4 linked regions of the Homo sapiens genome follow. The protein of the gene in region 1 purifies or fractionates together with the protein of each later gene. This does not show direct contact. Each region holds a gene or a part of one and is shown in the gene's direction. Other genes may lie near its edges.

Region 1 (3,500 bases):
CTACTACAGTACTATTTTATAATTTATAGGATTGTTATAGAATTCTAAACAGTGTCATTCCTGCCATGTAGAATTTGTAACCAAACTCAAGATGAGAAAGTAGATAATGTTCATAAGATACTAAAGGAGTGTATTTGCACTTAAAAATAAAAAAAGCTTTTTAAGAAGCTCCAAGTAGATCATGGATAGTTATGTTTAAATCTCCATTGATATTCAGGTGATCCTTAAGTGATACCTTTTTTATTAAACTGCATTCTTAATGCTTCCCAAGTAGCTTATATGCCATAATTTGTGGATTTACTTTTAACATTTTCCCCATGCTACCATTAGTTACTATATAGAGACTTACAAAGATTAAATCTGATATTTAAGCCTTGAAAATAATTTTCTAATGTTAGGATTACCAAACCCAGATATACTAAATTGAATGTATGCATAGTCTAATACTGTTTGAGTAGTTCAAGTCTTTATTCTATAACTGACTTTGAGAATTTTAAGTTACACTAACTATAGGACCTCTTCCATGCCAGTGTTTGAGATGTAAGGACACTTCAAGTGTTTGTTGCCCTTGTCCGGTAAGTACGGACTACAATTCCTCATTGCATGCAGAGAAGCCTGGTTTGGTCACAAGTAAAGTCTATCATGGAATAATAAGACTAAGCCTTAAAATAATAAAAGAAAATCCTTTAATGAAAACTGCAGATGTAGTTGAAGGTAAGCATAAGTAATTTGGTCTTGAACATGATTGAAGGGGAAGTGGGGAGGGAATGGCTTCAAACAACTAGAAAAGATCTCCCAAAATGGTTACCAATGTAAAAGTATATATTTGCATTTGGGGCTGACCTTTTTATTATTATTTCCCTTCTCTGTGCCTCCCTTTCCCTTTGCCTTCTCTTCTGCCTTTCTACCAGTGCCATTTAGTATAATGCAGGAAAGGACATTGGACTTGGAGTTAGAAACCTTGTGTTTTGCACTTGCTGCCTGTGACCTTGGATAAATCACTTAACCTCTCTGAGCCTGTTTTCTCTTCTGGAAAAAACCTACTTCATCTACTTGTTCTTCCAGGTTTCTCTCTCCCCTCTCCCTCATTTGTTGTGAGGATCAAGTCTGAGAAGATAGCATTAGTAGAAATTGACAGTACAATTGAAAGTACAGAGATGATAAATTATATATCAGATAAGGTAAATTTTTACTGCTAAATTTCTTTTATACTCTGAACAAATGCTAGTTAAAGCCAAAAAATGTCATTTTAGTAAGTTTTTCGTAGGCTATACCAATAAATTATGTAAGTTATATTTTTTAAATTTATAATATGTCTTAAAATTTATTTAAAATCAGAGCTTTGGAAATGTATTTCCTGGCAAAGAACTAAGCAAGTCTGGAAGAGAATCATTTACAAATGAATCTAATTCCATTGTATGGTACCCAGACAGATAATTCTAAGGTTTCTGTTAACATTCTCCAAAGAGCATGAACATAATTTCAAGCTCCCCAGTTAGGAAAACTTCTGCCTTTCATCTCTAATTTACACCCTCTTCTGGTTTTTTCTTTCAGGTTTACTGAAAGGCCAAATAATAAAACTTTTCATTAAATATTTTTTATTGTCTTGTCTAAAATAAGTGAAAAAAGAGGGGTTTTAGATTTAATTTAACTTCTGTTTTTTAAAATACCTTGTACATGCAGGGAATTCTTCTCCACTCCTAAAAATACACTAGAAATATTCTTATTGGGATTTAGGAAAATAAGGCAGCTTGAGAGAACATTGGTTTAGGGGTCACTAGTTTATAACTGGACAATTTTAGGCTTCGGTTTTCCTCATGTCTAAAATGAGATTTAACTAGGTGGTCTGTCACATTTCTTATATTCTGATTTTTGTCCAAAGAGAGTCCCTAAAATGAGGTAAAAGTAAACCAGATTTCATATTACCAGTTAGATTGACTTTGCAAAATCTTCTCAATTTTGCAAAGTTTATGATATGTTTTATCTTTAGGAGTTTCTTTAAATGTTTTTAACTCCCTATAAAAATCAGTTCACTTGTCTTTTAATAACAACAAACTTGTGTCAGGCACTGTGCAAAAACTACATGTGTCATCTCATTTAATCCATTCTTAATTCCACCGAACAGATAAACAAGTCTATGGAGTTACAAACAACTTATCCAAGGTCTCAAGCCATTATTGTTTGAGACTTCAACGTGCCTATCTCAGTAAGTGGTAGAACAAGTAGACAAAAATCAGCAAGGATATTGTAGAAGATCTGACTACTGTCACCAACCAACAGTATAAGAAAAGAAAATAGGTCACTATGTGTACATGAACATGTATCACTAAATACTTTCAGTGCTTGAAGTTAATACAAGTCAGTGAAGGTAGAACTGAATCTTAGTCATCTTTGCATTATTAATATTGGTTAAAGTACCTAAAACAAAGTGGAATACTTCCTTTTTATTTTATTGAACTAAATTTTTTTCTTATAAACTTGCCATTTTATTGTTTATATCATTGTACTTTCCATATTGTTTTAATTGGGGTTTTCTTCCCTCTTGCCTTTATTCCCAGCATTTTTTTTAATTTTTTTTTTTTTTGAGACAGGGTCTCACTCTGTCGCCCAGGCTGGAGTGCAGTAGAGCAATCTCAGCTCATTGCAACCTCCGCCTCCCAGGCTCAAGTGATCCCCAGTAGCTGGGACGGTAAGTGCACACCACCACGCCTGGCTAGTTTTTTGTATTTTTGGTAGAGACGGGGTTTTACTATGTTGCCCAGGCTGGTCTTGAACTTCTGAGCTGAAGCTGAGCTCAAGCAGTCCACCCACCTCGGCCTCCCAAAGTGCTGGGATTACAGGCATAAGTCACCACAACTGGCCAAACAGCTTTTTATGTAAGGACCCAGTCAACCTCAAGTTGTTTGGCACTTTTGTTTGAAGTACAGTAGATGCTACTTGATTGAAGGCATTAAATGTTTATATGAATACTGATAATGAAACTAAAATCACATAAATGAAGGTGTTTGAAGTATTGTCATAGTAATCCCTAAAGTGAGACAAACAGTATTCTTGCCTTAAAATAGCTACAAGGAGGCCACTTGAACCCTAGAAAGGAAAGCTATTAGTTTTATATTATGCATTTAGGAATACATTGCATTCTTAAATTATTACTTAAAATGTTGAATTAATGTTGTGTACATGAAACATTCTTACTGGGATTTAGTTGATACTCATTAGTCTTTGAAGATAGAATACTAGAATTGATTAATAGAACTAATGGCAATTCCATATTTACTGTAACACCTTAATACAGTATTTTATGTGTTTCTATAAAATGAAAGGAGCTTTTGAATATTCTGTCTAGACTATTCCAAGGGGAAAGGGACCTTATTTTGTATAAAATTATTAATACAACCCCTTCATTCATTCTTATATATCATGAAACGTGAGATGATTTAGGGTTTTTGTTTGTTTTTGTTTTTGTTTTTTTTGAGACGGAGTTTCGCTCTTATTGCCCA
Region 2 (3,500 bases), on another chromosome or scaffold:
GAGAACTCATTATATGAGAGATACACTGAATCATATATATATGTGATTTTTTTTTGAGGTGAAATTCACGTACCATAAAATTAACCAGGTTAAGGCATACAGTTCAGTGGCATTTAGTACACTGACAGTGTTGTGCAACAATCATGTCTTCTGATTTGTTTTTATTTACACTATTTTCATTTTTCTTGGAGTTTCTTTTGGCTTAAGGCAAGAACCAGCTTGGCACCATGTTTCTCTGCCAATATGGTTAGGGAATATTTTGTTACTATTGTTTACAATATGGTTACTAGAGTGATATCCCTTCTCTTTAGAGCAGCAGGGACTCTTAATTTAGAATCTATCTTATAGGCTTCTAAAGATACTTGACCCTCCTCTCTTCCCTGAAATTTTGTGGGTGGGTGCATTATTTTCTAGTTAAGACAAGAACACTTAATGCTCACAGTGAACAGGATAGTAATATATTCCTTGACATTGAAATTGTTAGGGGAGATAATGAAATATGTGAGCTACTGATAAAGGTATGACTTAAGACTTAGGTTAATTTATTGTTTAATAGAATGTAGTGAAAATGCCTGTTAAGAATTTACTCATGCCTGTAATCCCAGCACTTTGGGAGGCCGAGGTGGATGGATAACTTGATGTCAGGAGTTCCAGACCAGCCTGGCTAACAAGGAAAAACCCTGTCTCTACTAAAATACAAAAATTAGCTGGGCGTGGTAGTGGGTGCCTGTAGTCCCAGCTACTCTGAAGGCTAAGGCAGGAGAATCACTTGAACCTGGGAGGCAAAGGTTGGAGTGAGCCCAAATTGAACCACTGCACTGGAGCCTGGGCCACAGTGAGATTTTGTCTCAAAAAAAAAAAAAAAAAAAAAAGAATTTAATGGGCTGGGCACGGTGATCCCAACATGTAGTCCCAGCTACTCGGGAGGCTGAGGCAGGAGGATTGCTTGAGCCCAGAAGGCAGATGTTGCAGTGAGTCCCAGCTGGGACTACAGGCATGTGCTACCATGCCCGGCTAATTTTTGTATTTTTATTAGAGACGGAGTTTCGCCACGTTCCCCAGACTGGTCTCGATCTCCTGAGCTCAAGCCATCCGCACGCCTCGTCCTCCCAAAGTGTTGGGATTACAGGCGTGAGCCACCGTGCCTGGCCAAAAAAAATTTAATATGTGTATGTATAAGAGGCTTTTCAGAGAAATTGGGTGACAAATTCTAAGGAGGTTTTGTTTTAAAATCTTAAACAAGTTTTAAAGGACATAGCATAGCATAGTAAATATCCTAGACAGATTGTAATGGATTTGAGCTATAGTCCTTCTTTGAGGCTCAAGTAATCGTTTCTGTTTACTGGTTTTTCTGTTTGTATATATACATTCATAAATAACTTCAGATTTATTCCAGGTCTTTTATGTGAAGAATTCCTTTCTTCATTTGCCCACTTCACATTTAGTTTACATTATGAATGGACTAAATGATTATAACATTCTTTGAATTTTTGCTAGAAACACATTGTAAAAACATTGCATAAGGCAAGCTTCAGTATAATTTTTAATTATAACAAGTATTAAAGGAGAAATTTCTATATTCTGTAATGATATTTGTGAGTCCTAGCTCACTTCTTTTAACAAGATCATTCTGTGAATTTCTGGTACAATCTAAAGAGCTATTAGGATCAAGACTATAAATAGTAATTAGCTGGTTGGAAAGATAGCAAATGAGTCTAATTTCCATTAAACTGTACAAGTAGCACGTTTTAGAGATCAGATTTGAACCAGAAGTTTTTCATTATTTTATGTTTATCTGGCTCTTTTTTCTTTTCTTTAATTACATTGATTTGTTTGGTGCTTAGGTCTTTTCTCCTAGATCCATATTTACTATTGTTTGCCAAATACATTATGTCATATTGACCTGATAATAATGAGCAGGTGCCAGCATGTCTTGTCCTGAAGTTGGTGATAAGTATTATTAGTGATGGTGATAAGGAAAAAGATACTCATTTTGAGTACAGAAGGAATATTATTAAAAAATATATGTATATTTATATATTTTTTTCCCCTTGAGACAAGGTCTCTGTCGCTGAGGCTGGAGTGCAGTGGTGAGATCATAGCTCCCTGTAGCCTTGATCTCCTAAGCTCAAGCGATCCACACACCTCAGCCTCCCAAGTAGCTGAGACTACAGGTACATGCCACCATGCCTGAGCCACCGCGCCTGGCCCAAATTCCTATTTATTTATTTATTTATTTGAGATGGACTTTTGCTCTGTTGCCCAGGCTGGAGTGCAGTGGCGTGATCTCGGCTTACTGCAGCTTCCGCCTCCCAGGTCCAAGCGATTCTCCTGCCTCAGCCTCCCAAGTAGCTGGGATTAAAGGCACGTGCCACCATGCCCAGCTAAATTTTGTATTTTTAGCAGAGACAGGATTTCACCATGTTGGCGAGGCTGGTCTTGAACTCCTGACCTCAAGTGATCCACCCGGCAGCCTCACAAAGTGCTGGGATTACAGGCGTGAGCTACTGTGCCTGGCCCCAAAATTTTAATATATTTAAAGAAGTCTGGTACATTGGACAAAGTCTTATAGTTTCTCAAATCAGAAAAAGTAGTCTTATTATTTAGTAAAAATGTGACCAGACTGTGCCGTTTTTGTTAGTAGAGCCATTTGTCATCTGGATTACTTCTTCTGGAAATTGGGATGGAAGAGTTAAGGTTGAGGTTGAGATCCACGTTCTTTTGTTTCAACACCAGTTTGATTCTCGTGTCTGAACGGATGTCTCAGTCTTTTGCCTTGTTTTTAACTATAAACTGGCATTATTTGGGAATACTCTTGGGCTAAATCTGGATTGTTGGAAGTAAGAAAGCCACATTTTTTTTTAAATCCAAAAATATAGTTAGATACAATGAATAAGATCTAGTATTTGATAGCACAAAAGGGTGACTGCGGTCAACAATAATTTACTGTACATTTAAAAATAACTAAAAGAATGTAATTGAATTGTTTATAATACAAAGAAAGGATAAATGCTTGAGGTGATGGATATCCCATTTACACTAATGTAATTATTATGCATTGTCTGCCTGTTATCAAAATATCTCATGTACCTATACGCACCTACTAAATACCCACAAAACTAAAAATTAAAAAAATTCCATGCATAAGTCATGGTTGCCTCTCTAGATGTTTGTTGTGAAAGAATATTGTCCTACTAATTTTGAATTTTTTTTTTCTGAAAGAGATTCTTTTTATTGAAAGTTTCATGTCATAGATCGGCAAAATTGTTTTTTCTTTTGACCTTACACTGCTTCAGAATATATGTTTTGGAGTGATTCCAGCTTGAGGCAAGGAAGTTACCAGATTTTCCTGAATGGAAAGTAATTGCAGATATATTTATAAAAAGGTCCAGCTTTAGCTCTTGAAAGCTTTGAGGAGTTACTGTGGATAAAATCACAAAGCCATAATAGGTTCATACTTTTACCCAGTTGCATTTGGCCTTTAGATTTTTGCCCCATTA
Region 3 (3,500 bases), on another chromosome or scaffold:
CATATTTTGTCAGGCCACAGTTTTAAAGGTCTCGTTCCATTTAATCATGTATGAGAATCAGAGTCGTGGTATTTTATGTCTTGTCCTGTGGAACAGTATGTTATATTCCAAGAGCACTTAGAGTTTATTTTTTTAGACAGAGTCTCACTCTTTCTTCTAGTCTGGAGTGCAGTGGCATGGTCTTGGCTTACTGCAGCTTTCACCTCCCGGGTTCAGGTGATCCTCCTGCCTCAGCCTCCCAAGTAGCTGGGACTACAGGCACACGCCACCACGCCCAGCTAATTTTTTAAATTTTTTGTAGAGACGGGATTTTGCCCTGTTGGCCAGGCTGGGAGCACTTAGAATTTTATCATGATTATGTTTCAGGTATATTTATAAGTGTGGGCGGCAAACCACCCAGGTGCCAAGGCAAGAGACCGAGGACACGAGCTGTTCCAATATAATAAAATATAAAATAAGAATAGTTATACCAGATATAGATCTTAGATATGATTATATATGAATATCATTAATCATTAGTTTGTAGCAATTACTCTTTATTCCAATATCATAATAATCCTCACTCTATAATCATAACCTAGGAAAAACCAGGCCATACAGAGATAGGAGCTGAGGGGACATAGTGAGAAGTGACCAGAAGACAAGAGTGCGAGCCTTCTGTTATGCCCAGACAGGGCCACCAAAGGGCTCCTTGGTCTAGTGGTAACGCCAGCGTCTGGGAAGACGCCCGTTGCCAGGCGGACCGAGGTCTAGCAGTAGCGTAAGTGTCAAAGGAAAACACCCACTATTTAGCAGACCGGGAAAGGGAGTCTGCTTTTCCCCTGGGGAGTTTAGAGAAGACTGCTCCTCCACCTCTTGTGGAGGGCCTGACATCAGTCAGGCTTGCCTGCAATTATCCAGAGGCCTAACCGTCTCCCTATGGTGCTGTGCTTCAGTGGTCACGCTCCTAGTCTGCCTTCATGTTCCATCCTGTACACCTGGCTCTGCCTTCTAGATAGCAGTAGTAAATTAGTGAAAGTACTAAAAGTCTCTAATATGCAGAAACAATGGCGTAAGCTGTCTTTCTCTCTGTCTCCTCTCCCTCTCTGCCTCGGCTGCCAGGCGGGGAAGGGCCCCCTCTCCAGTGGACACGTAACCCACGTGACCTTACCTATCATTGGAGATGACTCACACTCTTTACCCTGCCCCTTGTGTTTTGTTTCCAATAAATAACAGTGCAGCCAGACATTCAGGGCCACTACTGGTCTCCGCGTCTTGGTGGTAGTGGTCCCCCGTGCCCAGCTGTCTTTTTTTTTTAAATCTCTGTGTCTCGTGTCTTTATTTCTGCACTCTCTCGTCGCTGCATACAGGGAGAAGCCCACCGACCCTGTGGGGCTGGTCGCTACATATAAGTACTCGTCCTTGTATGAATTAATGTTTTTACTTATTGATGCTCTGAGTCTGGGAAAATGGCAAGTGTTAAGACTCAGCTTTAAAAAGTTTTGTCACTTTTTAGTCTTTTATGCAAACCTCAGATCGAAGAAGACAGCATAAACACTTTTCACTCAGTAAGTTTTCCCAGTTAATGTATATTCACATCTTTAAAATGCAGCATTCCAAAATATGCCCGGTGCTATCCGCCCAGCTGCTCCTAGACCACCATTTAGTACTATGAGACCAGCTTCTTCACAGGTTCCACGAGTCATGTCAACACAGCGTGTTGGTGAGTCTTAATCCTTCCTTTAAAAATTGATCACCAATTTGAAAGAGCAAGATAAAAATACAAAATGTTCTTATTTTTTAGCTAACACATCAACACAGACAATGGGTCCACGTCCTGCAGCTGCAGCCGCTGCAGCTACTCCTGCTGTCCGCACCGTTCCACAGTATAAATATGCTGCAGGAGTTCGCAATCCTCAGCAACATCTTAATGCACAGCCACAAGTTACAATGCAACAGGTATGGATTTAATGATTTCTTAATAAAAATCACATTTCTTGGGTGAAATCAAAGGTGTGAAGACAGCTGGGCACAGTGGCTCACACCTATAACCCCAGCACTTTGGGAGGTTGAGGCAGGCAGATTGCTTGAGACCAGGAGTTTGGGACCAGCCTGGGCAACATACAGGACCCTGTCTCCACAAAGAAAACTAGCTGGGTGTGGTGGCATAAGCCTGTAGTCCTAGCTGCTAGGAAGGCTGAGGCAGGAGGATTGCTCGAGCCCAGGAGTTTAAGGCTGCAGCAAGCTGTAATCCCTGCTGGGTGACAGCAAGACTCTGTCTCAAAAGAAAAAATGTGAAGACAGCTGCATGATAGATTCTTGAGAGCTTAGCCTATCTGGAACATTCTGCTAATATGATAGTATGTAAAATGTCTTACGCTTTTGGAATTGGACAAGCAGCGAGAAATTCACATCCTAAATCACCACGCCTGGTCTGAAACAACTATTACAAGTAGCTATGGGCCAGGCGTGGTGGCTCACACCTCTATGTAATCCCAGCACTTCAGGAGGCCAAGGCAGGTGGATCACTTGAGGTCAGGAGTTTGAGACCAGCCTGGTCAACAGGGTGAAACCCCAGCTCTAAAAATATAAAGATTAGCCAGGCTTGGTGGCACATGCCTGTAATCCCAGCTACTGGGGAGGCTGAGGCAGGAAAGTTGCTTGAATCCGGAGGCGGAGGTTGCAGCGAGCCAAGATTGTGCCGTTGCATTCCAGCCTGGGCGACAAAGTGAGACTCCATCTCAAAAAGAAAAAAAATGTATCTGTGATACATAGTATATAATAACTACTTTGGCTTCTTTCTAATTCGCTCACTCAACTTCTCCACCTCATGTTTCGATGGAAGTCTACCACTTCAGCAGATGTCCATTGATGACTATTTGTATTTGCCATCTTTTTCTGTGCTTTAAACTTAAGAGTTCTCATTTTCTGTCTAGCCTGCTGTTCATGTACAAGGTCAGGAACCTTTGACTGCTTCCATGTTGGCATCTGCCCCTCCTCAAGAGCAAAAGCAAATGTTGGGTGAGTACTTCTGTCCCACCTTGTCAGTTCAGAAAGACTAGAAAATATAGGAATCACTTAGGCACTAGGTCAATCAATTGACAGCTAGGGCAGTGGAATTGATCTGAATTGGCATGAATGATTATGATAGTACAGTTGGTCTGCCTAATTAAAACCACTGGAAAGCCAATAAGAAAATGTATTGTTAGTAATAAATAGGGTAGTAGGGCATTACTCACCATGGGCCCTCACTACATTTTTGAGAGAAGGAATTTGAAGCAAATGAGAAGAAAACTTGTGACTTTGCCTGAACACCGATTTAACAACCTAATGGTAACATTGCTTAATTGGCAAGCTGATAATATCAAGAGTTAATTGCCTTGTGGCAGATTTTATTCTGTCTTCCCATGAAGACATAATGAAATTGTGGATTATGGGTTATTATATACGTGAGACAGAAGTATGGTTCTTAAACCCCAGTTTAATGTGGTAATTCAATGCAGTTAAAAACTTTTTTTTAT
Region 4 (3,500 bases), on another chromosome or scaffold:
TATCCTATGTTAGAATTCAAACAAATATTTATCCTAAAAAATGAAATGTTAGGCTAGGCACTGTGGCTCATTCCTGTAATCCCAGCACTTTGGGAGGCCGAGGTGAGTGAATCACCTGAGGTCAGGAGTTTGAGACCAGCCTGACCAACATGGTGAAACCCCCCCATCTCTAATAAAAATACAAAGTTAGCTGGGCGTGGTGGCACATGCCTGTAGTCCTAGCTACTCGAGAGGCTGAGGCATGAGAGTTGATTGATCACAAGAAGGGGAGGCTGCAGTGAGCTGAGATCCTGCCACTGCACTCCAGCCTCAGTGACAGAGGAAAACTCTGTCTCAAAAAAGAAAAAAATAAAGCACTCAGAAATGTAGGAATAGAAATGAACTTTCTTAACACAATAAAGGGAATTTTAAAAAAAGAAAATATAGATTCCAGATTATATAAGTGTGATATAAAAAAACTGATGCAACAAAAACAAAAATGGACAAATGAGATAGCATCAAACTAAAAAGCTTCTCCACAGTAAAGGAAACAATTAACAAAGTGAACAGACAAACCCACAGAGTGGGAGAAAATATTTGCAAGCCATACATCTGATATGGGATTAATATCCAAAATATGTAAGGAACTTAAACAATTCAACAGCAAGAGAACAAATAACTCAATTTTAAAATGTGCAAGCTGTTCCCATAAGTGGCCTGCGGTGATCTGTGAAAATGGTTCACTATTCACTTGACCCAGAAAACTCCATGAAATCATGCAAATAAAGAGGTTCAAATCTTCATGTTCACTCTAAGGACACCCATGAAACTGCCCAGGCCATCAAGAGTACGCCTATATGAAAAGCCAGCAAATGTCTGAAAGATGTCACTGTATGGAAACAATGTGTACCATTCCAACGTTACGAGGGTGGAGTTGGTAGGAGTGCCCAGACCAAACAGTGGGGCTGGGCACGCAGTTTGTGACCCCAAAAGAATTGAATTCTTGCTGTACACACTTAAAAATGCAGAGAGTAATGCTGAACGTAAGGGTTGAGCTGTAGATTCTCTGGTCGTCGAGGATATTCAGGCGCACAAAGCACCCAAGATGTGCCACCAGACTTCCAGAGCTCATGGTTGGATTAACTCATGCCTAAGCTCCCCCTGCCACATAGAGACAATCTTCCTGAAGAAGCACACCGTGTTCCTAAACCAGAAGAGGAGGTGCACAGAAGAAAAAGCTATCCTAGAAGATACTGAAGAAGCAAAAACTTACAGCACGGGAATAAATTCAGCGTAAAATACATGCAAATAAAAGTTTCAAAAATGGGCAAAAGACTTGAATAGACATTTCTCAAAAGAAGAAATACAAATGGCCAATGAGTTCATGAAAAAATGCTCAACATCGCTAATCATCAAGCAAACGCAAATTAAAACCACAATGAGCTGTTGCCTCGCACCGATTAGAATGGGAGGCTGAGGTGGGAAGATTGCTTGAGCCCAGGATATCAAGGCTGCAGTGAGCCAAGATTGCACCACTGCACCCCAGCCTGGGTGACAGAGACCCTGTCTCAAAAACAGCAGCAACAACAACAACAACGAAAAAAAAAAAAAAAAAAGGAGAGAGAGAGAGTTGGATGTACTGACATAGCAAGATTTCTAGGACTAAAGTGGAAAAAAAAGTTGTAGAACAGTTCATATATTATGATCCTATTTATGAACAAGTAAACCACCATAAACCACCATATGCACATATATGTATGTGAATGCATAGAAACAGGTGTGAAAGAATTCCCGCCAGCCATAAACTGTTTTGGGAAGGGGAGTGGGATTGGACGTCGTAGGTCAGTATAGGTAGACTTCCATATTTTACTTTAAATATAGTAGAACATCATTTGCACAGAATATCTAGTATCTGACCTATTCAGGATAAGCAATGTTTCTGGAATTCAAACATCTAACTATAAAATGATAAAAAGAACAAAAACAAAGTAGATGGGAAGTATATTAAACATTTGTTACCACAAGTAAAACAATTCATTTTACTTATTGATTCTTGCATGGAAATAGGAGTTGCAATATCTACTCATGGTCTTTAAAACGACAGAGTAGCTTTCTTAGAAAATATTATTAGTATTTTTTGATACAGAATCTCACTCTGTTGCCCAGGCTGGAGTGCAGTGGTATGATCCTAGCTTACTGCAGCCTCAACTTCCTGGGCTCAATCAATCCTGCCTCAGCTTCCTGAGTAGCTGAGATTACAAGTGCACGCCACCATGCCCGGCTAATTTTTAAATTTTTTGTAGAGATGGAGTCTCCCCATGTTGCCCAGGCTGGTCTCAAATTCCTGGGCTCATGTGATCCACCCGCCTCAACCTCCCATAATGCTGGGATTACAGACATGAGCCACTGCACCTGCCCAGAGTAGCACTTGACAATGATAAAAATAAAAATTTTAACTTGGCAGGAAATTGTTGGTCTGCTGTGTATGGAAGCAGCAATCGTTATCTGAGGTTGTTTTAGAGTTGAGGACGAAGCATCAACTGACTCATCAGTTCCAAGTTTGCTCATTCAGCTCACACTGGGTGAATTGCATGAATTGGGCCACTGTGACATTGTCATTTGGTCATTGCACCCAATGGCTCACACTATCAGCATGAGCTCTGCACTGTAGCAAATATTCCTCAGTCATTTCTATAGGGTTATATACTGTATTTAAGTTCGCCTGCATCATTAACATGTTTTTAAGTGCAAAGGAAAGTTTATAAATATCAGTAAGGTATTATTGACATATGCTTAGTCCACACCCATCTGACTGTATATAACAAATCTTATAAACTGTATACCTTCTTTTATAATATTTCTTAACTTTTCTTTCTGATTCTTTCTAGGAATTTACTTTGCAAAAGATGCCATCTATTCCCACAAAAATTGCCCGTATGATGCCAAAAACGTCGTTATGTTTGTAGCCCAAGTTCTGGTTGGAAAGTTTACTGAAGGAAATATAACGTACACGAGCCCTCCTCCACAGTTCGACAGCTGTGTGGATACCAGATCGAATCCCTCCGTTTTTGTCATCTTTCAGAAAGATCAGGTTTACCCACAATATGTGATTGAATATACTGAAGACAAAGCCTGCGTGATTAGTTAGAACCGATGAATACAGCGTCAGAAGGATGCCATAACCATTCTGTTCCTTTACAGAACTAAATTGCCGCAGACAGGAGTTAAAGTTTTATATTTTCCTGCTCAGTTATCTAATGTCTTAGATCAGTGGTCCCCAAATTTTGCTACATATTAGAATCATCTGGGAGGTTTTAAACAAATTCTGATGCCCAGGTTGCACCCCATGCCAATGAAATCATTTCTGGGCGTCAGCGCCAGGCAGTTGTATTTTTTTTTTTTTTTTTTTTTTTGAGACTGAATCTCACTCCATCGTCCAGGCTGGAGTGCAGTGGCGCGATCTCGGCTCACTGCAACCTCTGCCTCCCGGGTTCAAGCAATTCTCCTGCCTCAGCCTCCCG

Evidence for each region. The genes of interacting proteins can lie anywhere in the genome.
Region 2: the proteins of MEX3C (region 1) and AP2B1 purify together in Homo sapiens (affinity purification with mass spectrometry; 4 studies listed by BioGRID and IntAct, with this or other methods). This does not show direct contact.
Region 3: the proteins of MEX3C (region 1) and PABPC1 purify together in Homo sapiens (affinity purification with mass spectrometry; 3 studies listed by BioGRID, with this or other methods). This does not show direct contact.
Region 4: the proteins of MEX3C (region 1) and ZC3HAV1 purify together in Homo sapiens (affinity purification with mass spectrometry; 2 studies listed by BioGRID and IntAct, with this or other methods). This does not show direct contact.

Annotation. Positions count from the first base shown.
Region 1 is NC_000018.10:51,187,682-51,191,181, reverse strand, and holds part of MEX3C (RNA-binding E3 ubiquitin-protein ligase MEX3C), read left to right. Parts: intron 1-3,500. UniProt on the Homo sapiens protein: E3 ubiquitin ligase responsible for the post-transcriptional regulation of common HLA-A allotypes. Binds to the 3' UTR of HLA-A2 mRNA, and regulates its levels by promoting mRNA decay.
Region 2 is NC_000017.11:35,590,322-35,593,821, forward strand, and holds part of AP2B1 (AP-2 complex subunit beta), read left to right. Parts: intron 1-3,500. UniProt on the Homo sapiens protein: Component of the adaptor protein complex 2 (AP-2). Adaptor protein complexes function in protein transport via transport vesicles in different membrane traffic pathways.
Region 3 is NC_000008.11:100,705,089-100,708,588, reverse strand, and holds part of PABPC1 (polyadenylate-binding protein 1), read left to right. Parts: intron 1-1,591; coding exon 1,592-1,702; intron 1,703-1,783; coding exon 1,784-1,938; intron 1,939-2,915; coding exon 2,916-3,000; intron 3,001-3,500. UniProt on the Homo sapiens protein: Binds the poly(A) tail of mRNA, including that of its own transcript, and regulates processes of mRNA metabolism such as pre-mRNA splicing and mRNA stability.
Region 4 is NC_000007.14:139,047,221-139,050,720, reverse strand, and holds part of ZC3HAV1 (zinc finger CCCH-type antiviral protein 1), read left to right. Parts: intron 1-2,867; coding exon 2,868-3,127; 3' UTR 3,128-3,500.